2 separate regions of the Homo sapiens genome follow, and region 2 is linked to region 1. Evidence: fine-mapped expression QTL. Tissue or cell type: whole blood. Region 1 holds a variant in brackets; the other region holds the start of a gene. All regions are shown on one strand. Distances are from middle to middle.

Region 1 (5,000 bases):
TGATATGAACTCAAAATTCATAAATGAAAAGACTGATCGATAAGACTACTTAAAAATTAAATATTTCTCTGTAGAAAAATGTACCACAAAAAATTAAATGGCAAATTGTAAAATGCAAACAAAAAACTGGAAACAATATTTGCAGGTTTTTTTTTTTTTTTTTTTGAGACAGAGTCTTGCTCTGTCACCAGGCTGGAGTGCAGTAGCATGGTCTCAGCTCACTGCAACCTCGCCTCCCAGGTTCAAGCAATTCTCCTGCCTCAGCCTCCGGAGTAGCTGGGACTACAGGCGCGCACCACCACGCCCAGCTAATTTTTGTATTTTTAGTAGAGACGAGATTTCACCATGTTGGCCAGGATGGTCTCGATCTCTTGACCTTGTGATCCGCCCACCTTGGCCTCCCAAAGTGCTGGGATTACAGGCATGAGCCACCGTGCCCAGCTGACATTTGCAATATTTTTAAAAGAGAGATGTCAGGGCAAAGATCCACAAGAACTCAGTAAATCAGTTTTAAAAAGGCAAATAATCCAATAGAAAAGTGGACAAAGAACATGCATAAACAACTCACAGAAGAAATAATAGGTAAAAATTATTTTTAAAAGATGTTCAACCTAGGCTGGGTGCAGTGGCTCACACCTGTAATCCCAGCACTTTGGGAAACCGAGGCAGGTGGATCACCTGAGGTCAGGAGTTTGAGACCAGCCTGGCCAACATGGTGAAACCCCAGCTCTACTAAAAATACAAAAAAAGCAAGGAGTGGTGGTGGACGCCTATAATCCCAGCTACTCGGGAGCCTGAGGCAGGAGAATCGCTTGAACCCGGGAGGTGGAGGTTGCATTGAGCCAAGATCGTGCCACTGCACTCCAGCCTGGGCAATAAGAGTGAAACTCTGTCTCAAAAACTAATAATAAAAATAAAACCAGGCAGGTGCAGTGGTACACGCCTGTAATCCCAGTACTTTGGGAGGCTGAGGCTGGTGGATCACCTGAGGTCAGGAGTTCTTAACCAGCCTGACTAACATGGTGAAACCCCGTCTCTACTAAATACAAAACAATTAGCCGGGTGTATTGGCGCATGCTTGTAAACAGAGCTACTTGGGAGGCTGAGACAGGAGAATTGCTTGTACCTGGGAGGCGGAGGTTGCAGTGAGCTGAGATCACGCCATTGCACTCCAGCTTGGGAAACGAGCAAAACGCCGCCTCAAAAAATAAAAAAAAGTTTCTTATAAACAACACAAACAGTAAAAATATTTCCGTTTTGTAAAAAACAAATTGTATCTTCCAAAAATGTCCTGTGTTATTCTGGAACATTCCAGACTGTGGAAGAATGGTATCTTCTCACCTCCTAAATTAAATTCTTTTGCTTCTAACTTATGCTTTTTTATTTTATTTTATTTATTTATTTTTTTTGGAGACGGAGTTTCGCTCTTGTTGCCCAGGCTGGAATGCAATGGCGCGACCTCGGCTCACTACAACCTCCACCTCCCAGGTTCAAGTGATTCTCCTGCCTCAACCTCCCTAGTAGCTGGGATTACAGGCACATGCTACCAGGCCCAGCTATAACTTATGTTTTTATTTTTCATGCCCCGTCTCTTTTAAGTGTCCCTTTTATTATTATGATTATTCTTGTTGTTCTGTTTTCTTTTGTTTTAAGAGACAATGTCTCTATTTTGCCCAGGATGGTCCGTCCAACTCCTGGGCTTGAGCAATCCTCCTGCCTTGGCGTCCCAAAGTGCTGGGATTACAGAAGTGAGCCACTGTGCCTGGCATTGTTTTTATTTTTATTTTTTTGAGAAATCCTTAGAGGTTTACCCTGTATCTGGAATGGCTTTCATGCTTTTATTTTGAAGTTAGAATAGCTAGCATTTTCAGAGGAAGATAATGTTTTGGGAAATTCTAGAAGTAGATCAAAGTAAAAAACAACAATATAAAAACCCATAATATCCTTGGGGAAATCAGCTAAAAACACAAAATTAACCATGAAACAACAGTAAAAAGTTACAGACATGAAAAAAATTGTGTTGAAAAACTAAGGAAGCAGCTGATTAGCCAATAAGAATGATGCTGAGTATGCATTGTGCATTAACGGAGAATTGACTTTTTTTTTTTTTCTTGGAGAAGCAGTCTCTCTCTGTCACCCAGGCTGGAGTGCAGTGGTGCAATCTTGGCTCACTGCAACCTCCACCTCCCAGGTTCAAGCAATTCTCCTGCCTCAGCCTCCCGAGTAGCTGGGACTACAGGCGCATGCCACCAGGCCCAGCTAATTTTTTGTATTTTAGTAGAGATGGGGTTTCACCATGCTGCCCAGTCTGGTCTCGAACTCCTGAGTTCAGGCAATCCACCCGCCTTGACCTCCCAAAGTGTTGGAATTACAG[G/A]CATGAGCCACCGCGTCGGCTGAGAATTGACTTTTATTTTCACTGTGTAGCCAGGTGGAATGGTCATTAAATGGAAAGATTTTTTAAATTCATCTAAGAATTTAATAATGTTTTTCAAATATTCATGTAGGTGGGACTAGTAAAAGTTTTTTGGAGCAGTGAGGGCAGATTTTTTTTTTAAGATCTAAGATGATTAAAAACCTTTTATTTTGATTAATATAGTACCTAGACTTTCTTTTTCTCCTTGCCACAGGATTACTATTAATGGAGAAAGCCCAAAACATCGGTCATGGCATACTTTAACACCTATAGCTGATGATAAACTTTTCCTATGTGGTGGACTAAGTGCAGATAATATCCCATTAAGTAAGTTGATTAAGGTTTAGCCTATAATTATTATCTCATTCTTTTTTCTTAATTGTATTTCATACTTACAGTGAAGTAAATCTTCCTTTTTTCCTGTTTTTCTGGTTTGCCTTTATCCTCAATTATTTTCTTGCATGAATTATGATCTCCTTGCTTTTGTACCCTTGGCTCTCCACGTTCCCCTGTTTTCTAGGGAAAGAGAAGAGGAAGGGTGATTGAAGCTAGATGAAACAAAGCCCCTTTATACTACTATATTCTGTGATTCTGTGTCCGCTGATTTTTGATCCAGATGCTTGTACTGTAGGGTAGGATGCTTGCACTGTTCGCTTTTGCTGTACTCCAGGCTAGGGGATTGGAAGAGCAGCCTTTCTTAGAAGGCCCTGGAAATACAAAGTGGGAAGCCCAGTTGCTTCTCTTTTTGTTCCAGAGCTGTAGAGGAAAGTGTTTAGCTAGGTTTTTTAAACTCCAGTCATTGCTGATCCCAGTGGCTATGGGTTTTGGAATGCAGTTTTTCTTTCAGCAGTAGAACTGTGGCATCAAGATAGACAGATGACCACGAATATTGACTTCTTAATTTGGCATGTTAGATGTTTTATGTTTTCTATTTTCTTTTCTTTTTTTTTTTTTTTGAGATGGAGTCTTGCTCTGTGGCCTGGGCTGGAGTGGGATGGTGCAATCTCGGCTCACTGCAACCTCCACCTCCCGGGTTCAAGCGATTCTCCTTCCTCAGGCACCTGAGTAGCTGGGATTACAGGTGCCCACCACCACGCTCAGCTAATTTTTGTATGTAGAGGTGGGGTTTCACCATGTTGGCCAGGCTGGTCTCGAATTCCTGACCTCGTGATCCACCCGCCTCAGCCTCCCAAAGTGCTGGGACTACAGGCGTCAGCCACCGCACCTGGCCATTTTCTGTTTTCTTAACCCAGAAGTTTTCTCTGGCTAGAGATGTTTTCATTAAGAAACATTATACACTATTACAACATTTATATAATTATATATTAGGGTCTGGAAACAACTGTTTTTCAACAAAAGTTTATTGAGCATCAGCTGTGTGTCTGGCAGTCAGACAAATTCCAGAGGTTAGTTGGAGAAACAACAGTTCCTAGTAGGAGATGTTAGTTATTCTTGCACATTATTATACTTCTCCAATTTGTGAGATTTTTATTTAAAAGAGATTTGGAATCTAACCAAAAACTAACATCTGTACATTTCACTAGGGGCTGTTTAATATCATATCTTCATGATCTCTAGTGTTTTTAGTTCCTGTTTTCTGTTTTTGGTCATTGACCTATGGGAAATTAAATGTCCTAACTCATAAGCTAGTCAATTTCCTCCCTTAAAGATTCTGTTTCAGTCTAAGATTTGGTCATATGGATATTAGATGATCCCAAGACTTTTTTTTTAGTTTGGTTGACTGTGATAATGGCATTGTGGTTATGTAAAAAATGTCCTTTTATTTTCAGTAATGCATACTGAAGTATGTATGGAGAAAATGATGTGAGATCTAGGATTTCATTTAGAAAAATTAAGCAATAATAACAAAAAGATAAGTGGAGCACATGTAGCAAAGTCTTGATAGTTGTTGAATCTGCGATATATGGAAGTTCATTGTCATGGTCACTCTATTTTTGTAAATGTTTGAAAATTTGTATGATAAAATAGGTGCACTCAGAAAAGATAGTCATTTAAATGTAGCATGATAAATTGGGGGGAAAATTAAAATTGTATCCCAGAGACCTAATCTTAATTTCTGAACTGTCATGATATTGCAGGTGATGGTTGGATTCATAATGTCACAACAAATTGTTGGAAACAACTTACACATTTACCTAAAACAAGACCTAGGTAAGTCAAGAAATTGACAAATAGTAAAATAGTTAAGAATTTTTAAAGTATTAAAATATAGTACTGAATTTATAGTGTTTGCCATTGAAACCATAAGCCATTGAGAAGGATATCTTTCAAATGAGCTTGATGTTACCTAAATAATTTAATTATTATTTTAATTATATCTGATTGTTAGAAATGATCTATCCAGTTTTCACCCATACTTGCATATTTGAAAATGTTATTCTTTTAGGTAAATGCATAATCTTGCCTGATAACTGTGAAGATTAAGATAATTAAAAGCATCATATGAGATTAATGTTTTTAATGTTAATAATTTTAATAAGCAGACAAAAATGGGGTTGGCTTTAATAGTAGTTATTTGTTTTTGGAAGAGGTTTAAAGCAAGTTAATCAGGAAATTTGCTTCCATG
Region 2 (5,355 bases), 39 kb before region 1:
AAAGACAGACACACACATACCAACAAACATAAAGCTAGTATGGTAGTATTAATAATTATTAACCTGGAGTGGAAGATACACAGGTACTCTTTGAACTATTTTTTCAACTTTTTTTGGTTTGCTACTTTTTATATTAAGAAATTGGAGAGAAAATAATCAATTCCAGTTGCCCAGCTTTCTCTCACAATCTGACCTCACAATTCCCCTTTTCCCATAAATGTTCCCAATCATAATTCTCTTTCTCTAATAAATTTTCAACTTCTTCTATGGCTCCTTCACCTGGCCAGCTCATAAAGTCCCAATACTTAAATGAACAATTATATGCTGATGACTCCAAAATCCCTATCTCTAGCCCTTAGCTCTCTTAGACTTCAAATCCAACTCAATATGCCTCCAAATGAACTCACCATTAGCCCTGCCCTCCCCCAAACCTGTTCCTCCTCCCATGTTCAATAACCTAGCGAAGGGCTCCACCCACCTCCCACCCAGTGACCAAGCTGGTAAACTAGGCATATCCTTGACTCTTCCCTCTCACGAATGAAAGTTCCTTGAACAACTTCCGTTCATCATTCAGTTCTTAACTTAGACTTTACTTTCTCTCAGGAACCTTCCCTGTCTTCCCTCAATCTGAGTTAAAGGGCCTCTGTACACCCAAGGTGCCCTGGACTTTTGCTATTTTCACACTTACTGCACGGTATGGTAATTGTCTGTTTGCTGGTCTATAGACTCCACCAGACTCTACAGTCCAGGAGGACAAATGCTCCATTTCAAAAATACAATACCAATATTACTAGTAACAATAAAGTGATGGAGTGAGAATTATGATTGACATATAGTTTACACTAAGTAAAATGCACATATCTGTATGCAGTTCAATGCATTTTGATAAATGTATACACCCATGTAACCACCACCTCAATCAAGATACAGAACATTTTAATCACTCCAGAACACTTCCTGTACTCCTTTCCATCAGTCCCCTCCCCCTCCCTACTCCCAAATGACCACTTTTCTGCTTTCTATTATCATAGATCACTTTTGTCTATCTTGAATTTCTTCCTTCCTTCCTCCCTTCCTCCCTCCCTCCCTTCTTCCTTCCCTCCCTTCCTCCTTTTTCTTTCTTTCTCTCTCCCTTTCCCTCTCTCTCTCTTTCTCTCTTTCTTTCTAAGGAACCTTGCTCTGTCGCCCAGACCGGAGTGCAGTGGCGCGATCTCGGTTCACTGCAACCTCCACCTCCCGGGTTAAAGCGATTCTCTTGCCTTTGTAGCTGGGATTACAGGCATGCGCCACCACGCCCGGCTAATTTTTGTATTTTTAGTAGAGACGGGATTGCCCAGGTTGGCCAGGCTGGTCTCAAACTCCTGAGCTCAAGTGATCCGCCTACCTCATCCTCCCAAAGTGCTTAGATGAGAGGCGTGAGCCACTGCAATCCAGTTACATTTGTAAAGTTAAATATGCATTTATCCTCTGACCCAGCAATTCCACATCTAGAACTCTACTCCAAAGATAGGCTTGTACAAATACAAAATAACATATGCATAACGTTTCATCGCAGCATTATTTATGATAGCCAAAAAAACCTGGAAATAACCGATATGTCCATCAATAAGAATCTGTTTGAATAAGCTATGACACATCCAATCGGTGGAGTGCTATGAAGCTATGAAAAGGACTGAGGAGACTGCTTGCTGTATCCTGATATGGATCGTCAAGTGAAAAGAGAAAGTTAAGGAACACTGTATATACTTCCTTTTGTGTAAGAAAAGGAGCAGATACTCTGTTTATTTGTATAGTCAAAAATAAACAATAGAAAGTATCATTAAAGTGCACCAGACTTAAGTGCCTTCTAATGTGATGCAATATGAAGTATTTTCCAAAAAAAAATCTGAACTAGAATCTAATAAAGCTTTTAGATACAGCTTCCAGCCTAAAAGAAGTATGGGGAAAGGATGCACAAGTTAATGAGAAAAGACACTGAGGAACCAAACCCAGAAGGTGGTACGGCTGTAGGAAAATAAGAAAACTAATCCATATAACAAACAAATGGCACAAGAGAGAAGGGAGAGAAGCTATTCTAGAGTAAAACAGACGTAAAGTCTTAAGAGGCGTTAACAACGAATTACGGTGCTGAACAAACCAACTATAGAAAAGACATTTTGAGATAATCAAGGAATCTGACTACAGACTGACTACTAAATGAGGCTGTACTGCCAAAACACAATTCCAAGAGAGAAGGAATCTGCGCGTGGAAAGCCCAGGCCCCTTGCCCACTGCGAGGAGCCAGAACGTCCCTCCACAGCCGCGCCGCCCCTGGCTCGACTTCCCGAGCGAGAGCCGCGGGACGTTGCAGACGCACTGGCTCCGCCTTCCCACCAATCTCGACCCTCGCCGCGTTCCGTTCGTGCGTGGAGCAGTCGGGGCTGGAGGCGAGGCCGCCGGGCGGGCAGGGGTTGTGGCGCGGCAAGCGGCGGGCCAGCGACGGCGCGAATGGCGGACTCTCAGCTGTTCTGTGTGGCGGAGGAACGCAGCGGCCACTGCGCCGTGGTGGACGGAAACTTCCTCTACGTGTGGGGGGGCTACGTGGTAAGGGGAAGAGGCGGGACGGGGTAGACTCGCGCCGGGAGACCCTCGGCCTGAGCGGACGCAGCGCCCGCCACACCCGCTCCCGAGGCTGCGGCCCAGGCCTGGCGCGCCCGGCGCCTGCAGCCCCCCAGCCCCTCCGCTGGCCGCCGCCCCCACAGCCGCGCCAGGGCTTGACGTCGTCCCGCCGTTGCTTCTTCTATTAAAGCCTCAGACCCGGCTCCGGGCCTCTTACCACTCTCCGCCCCTCTTTGCCAGCAATTCAGTAACCACGGTTTGCCCAATGCAAAGGCAGTTACAGCGCGATTAATTATTATCCTTAAATACTGGCGCAGACCTAGAAGGACCCGAGGACGCCGTGCTGTATCATTTTGTATATATTTCCTTATTCCCACGGCGCGATTCGAAATAAAATATCGAAATCACTGAAGCATTTAAATATTTATTTTCTTTTCTTTTTCTTTTTTTTTTTTTTTTGAGATGGAGTTTCGCTCTTGTTGCCCAGGGCTGGAGTGCAATGGAACGATCTCAGCTCACCGCAACCTCCGCCCCCCGCCCCGGGTTCAAGCGATTCTCCTGCCTCAGCCTCCCTAGTAGCTGGGCTTACCGGCATGTGCCATCATGCCTGGCTAATTTTGTATTTTTAATAGAGACAGGGTTTCCCATGTTGGTCAGGCTGGTCTTGAACTCGCGACCTCAGGTGATCCGCCCGCCTTGGCTTCCCAAAATGCTGGGATTACAGGCATTAGCCACTGTGCCTGGCTTGCATTTTAAATATTTCTAAGCTATTTTTAGTGGCGTTTCTTTACTAATGACTATTTTTTCTAGTCTCAAAATAGACGCATGTTAGCAATAATATGCTAAGAAATATTATGCTTTAAAATTCTTACTACAATGGAGGTTTGAGCGTATGTGTGTGTTGTGTGTCCATAATCACAGAATTATAGAAGCAAGAATGGTAAAGCTGGAAAACAGGAATACTATATGCCAACCCTCTTAGTTTACAGATTTTTTTTCTTAAGCCATCTGGAAGTTCTACTGATAGTAGAACCTACATCTTCTGTCTCCCTACCATTATGTGACAGACCTGTAACGTGACTGAATCATATTGAAATGACCAACATACAGGCATACCTCGAAGTATTGCAGAATACTTCGTATGACTGCAATAAAGCGAGGTCATACGAATTTTTTTGGTATCTCAGTGCATATAAAAGTCATGTTTACATTGTAGTGTGTTAAGCATGCAATAGTATTATGTGTAAAAAAAAAATGTACATACCTGGCTGGGCGCGGTGGCTCACACCCGTAATCCCAGCACTTTGGGAGGCTGAGGCGGGTGGATTACCTGAAGTCAGGAGTCCGAGACCAGCCTGGCCAACATGGTGAAACCCCGTCTCTACTAAAAACACAAAAATTAGCCGGACATGGTGGCGGATGCTTGTAATCCCAGCTACTCGGGAGGCTGAGGCAGGAGAATCACTTGGACCCGGGAGGCGGAGGTTGCAGTAAGCCAAGATTGCGCCATTGCATTCCAGCCTGGGCGACAGAGCGAGACTCCGTCTCAAAACAAAAAAACAAAAAACTGTACATACCTAATTTCAAAATTATTGCTAAAAAATGCTAAGGATTATCTGAGCCTTCAGCGAGTTGTATTCTTTTTGCTCATGGAGGGTCTTCCTCTATGTAGTTGGCTACTGACTGATTAGGGTGGTTGTTGCTGAAGGTTGGAGTGGCTGTGGCAGTTTCTTAAGACAAGACAATGAAGTTTGCCACATTGAGCCTTCCTTTCACAAAATATTTCTCTGTAACATGCAATGCAGTTTTGATGTGTGTGTGTGTGTGTGTGTGTGTGTGTGTGTTTTGAGACAATCTCTCCTGCAACCTCTGCCTCCCAGGTTCAAGCGATTCTCCTGCCTCAGCCTCCTGAGTAGCTGGAATTACAGGTGTGCACCACCATGCCTGGCTAATTTTTGTATTTTTTACAGGCGTGAGCCACCGTGCCCAGCCATGAAATGTATTTTCTTAAATAATAAGACTTGAAAGTCAAAATGATTCCTTGATCCATGGGCAACAGAATGGATATTGTGTAGCAGGCATGAAAAGATAAATCTTGTAGATCTCCCATCAGAGCTCTTGGGTGACTAGGTGTGTTGTCAATGAGCAGTGAGTGAGATTTTCTGAGCAGCAGTTCTCAACAATAAACTACTCAGTAAGCCATGCTGTCAAAGAGACATGCTGTCATCCAGGCTTTCTTGTTCCGTTGTTAGAGCACAGGCAGTGTAGATTTAGCATAATTCTTAAGGGCCCTAGGATTTTCAGAATGATAAATGAACATTGGCTTCAACTTAAAGACAGCTACTACATTAGCCACTAACAAGAGAATTAGCTGGTCCTTTGAAATTGGACATTGACTTCTCTCTAGCTATGAAAGTCCTAGATGGCATCCTCTTCCAATATAAAGCTGTTTCATCCACGTTAAAAAATCTATTGTTGGCCGGGCACGTTGGCTCACGCCTGTAATCCCAGGACTTTGGGAGGCCGAGGCAGGCGGATCACAAAGTCAGGAGATCAAGACCATCCTGGCTAACATGGTGAAACCCCGTCTCTACTAAAAATACAAAAAAAATTAGCCAGGCGTGGTGGCAGGCGCCTATAGTCTCAGCTACTGGGGAGGCTGAGGCAGGAGAATGGCGAGAACCCAGGAGGCGGAGCTTGCAGTGAGCAGAGATCGCACCACTGCCCTCCAGCCTGGGCGACAGAGTGAGACTCTGT

What was found. PIP is the estimated chance that this variant, and not a neighbour inherited with it, causes the effect.
Region 2: KLHDC1 starts here. The variant in region 1 is fine-mapped to the expression of KLHDC1 in whole blood (INTERVAL, PIP 0.94).

Annotation. Positions count from the first base shown.
Region 1 is chr14:49,730,077-49,735,076 of GRCh38, forward strand. KLHDC1 (kelch domain containing 1) reads left to right here. Exons shown (of 13, transcript NM_172193.3): 9 at 2,628-2,740; 10 at 4,513-4,585. Among named protein-coding and RNA genes, the nearest start is that of KLHDC2, 36 kb to the right of the region's middle. The variant G/A (reference allele first, on the strand shown) is at 2,375.
Region 2 is chr14:49,690,708-49,696,062 of GRCh38, forward strand. It overlaps KLHDC1 (kelch domain containing 1), which reads left to right and starts at 2,413. Exons shown (of 13, transcript NM_172193.3): 1 at 2,413-2,583. The coding sequence starts at 2,488. RefSeq lists silencers at 2,558-2,607, 2,618-2,787.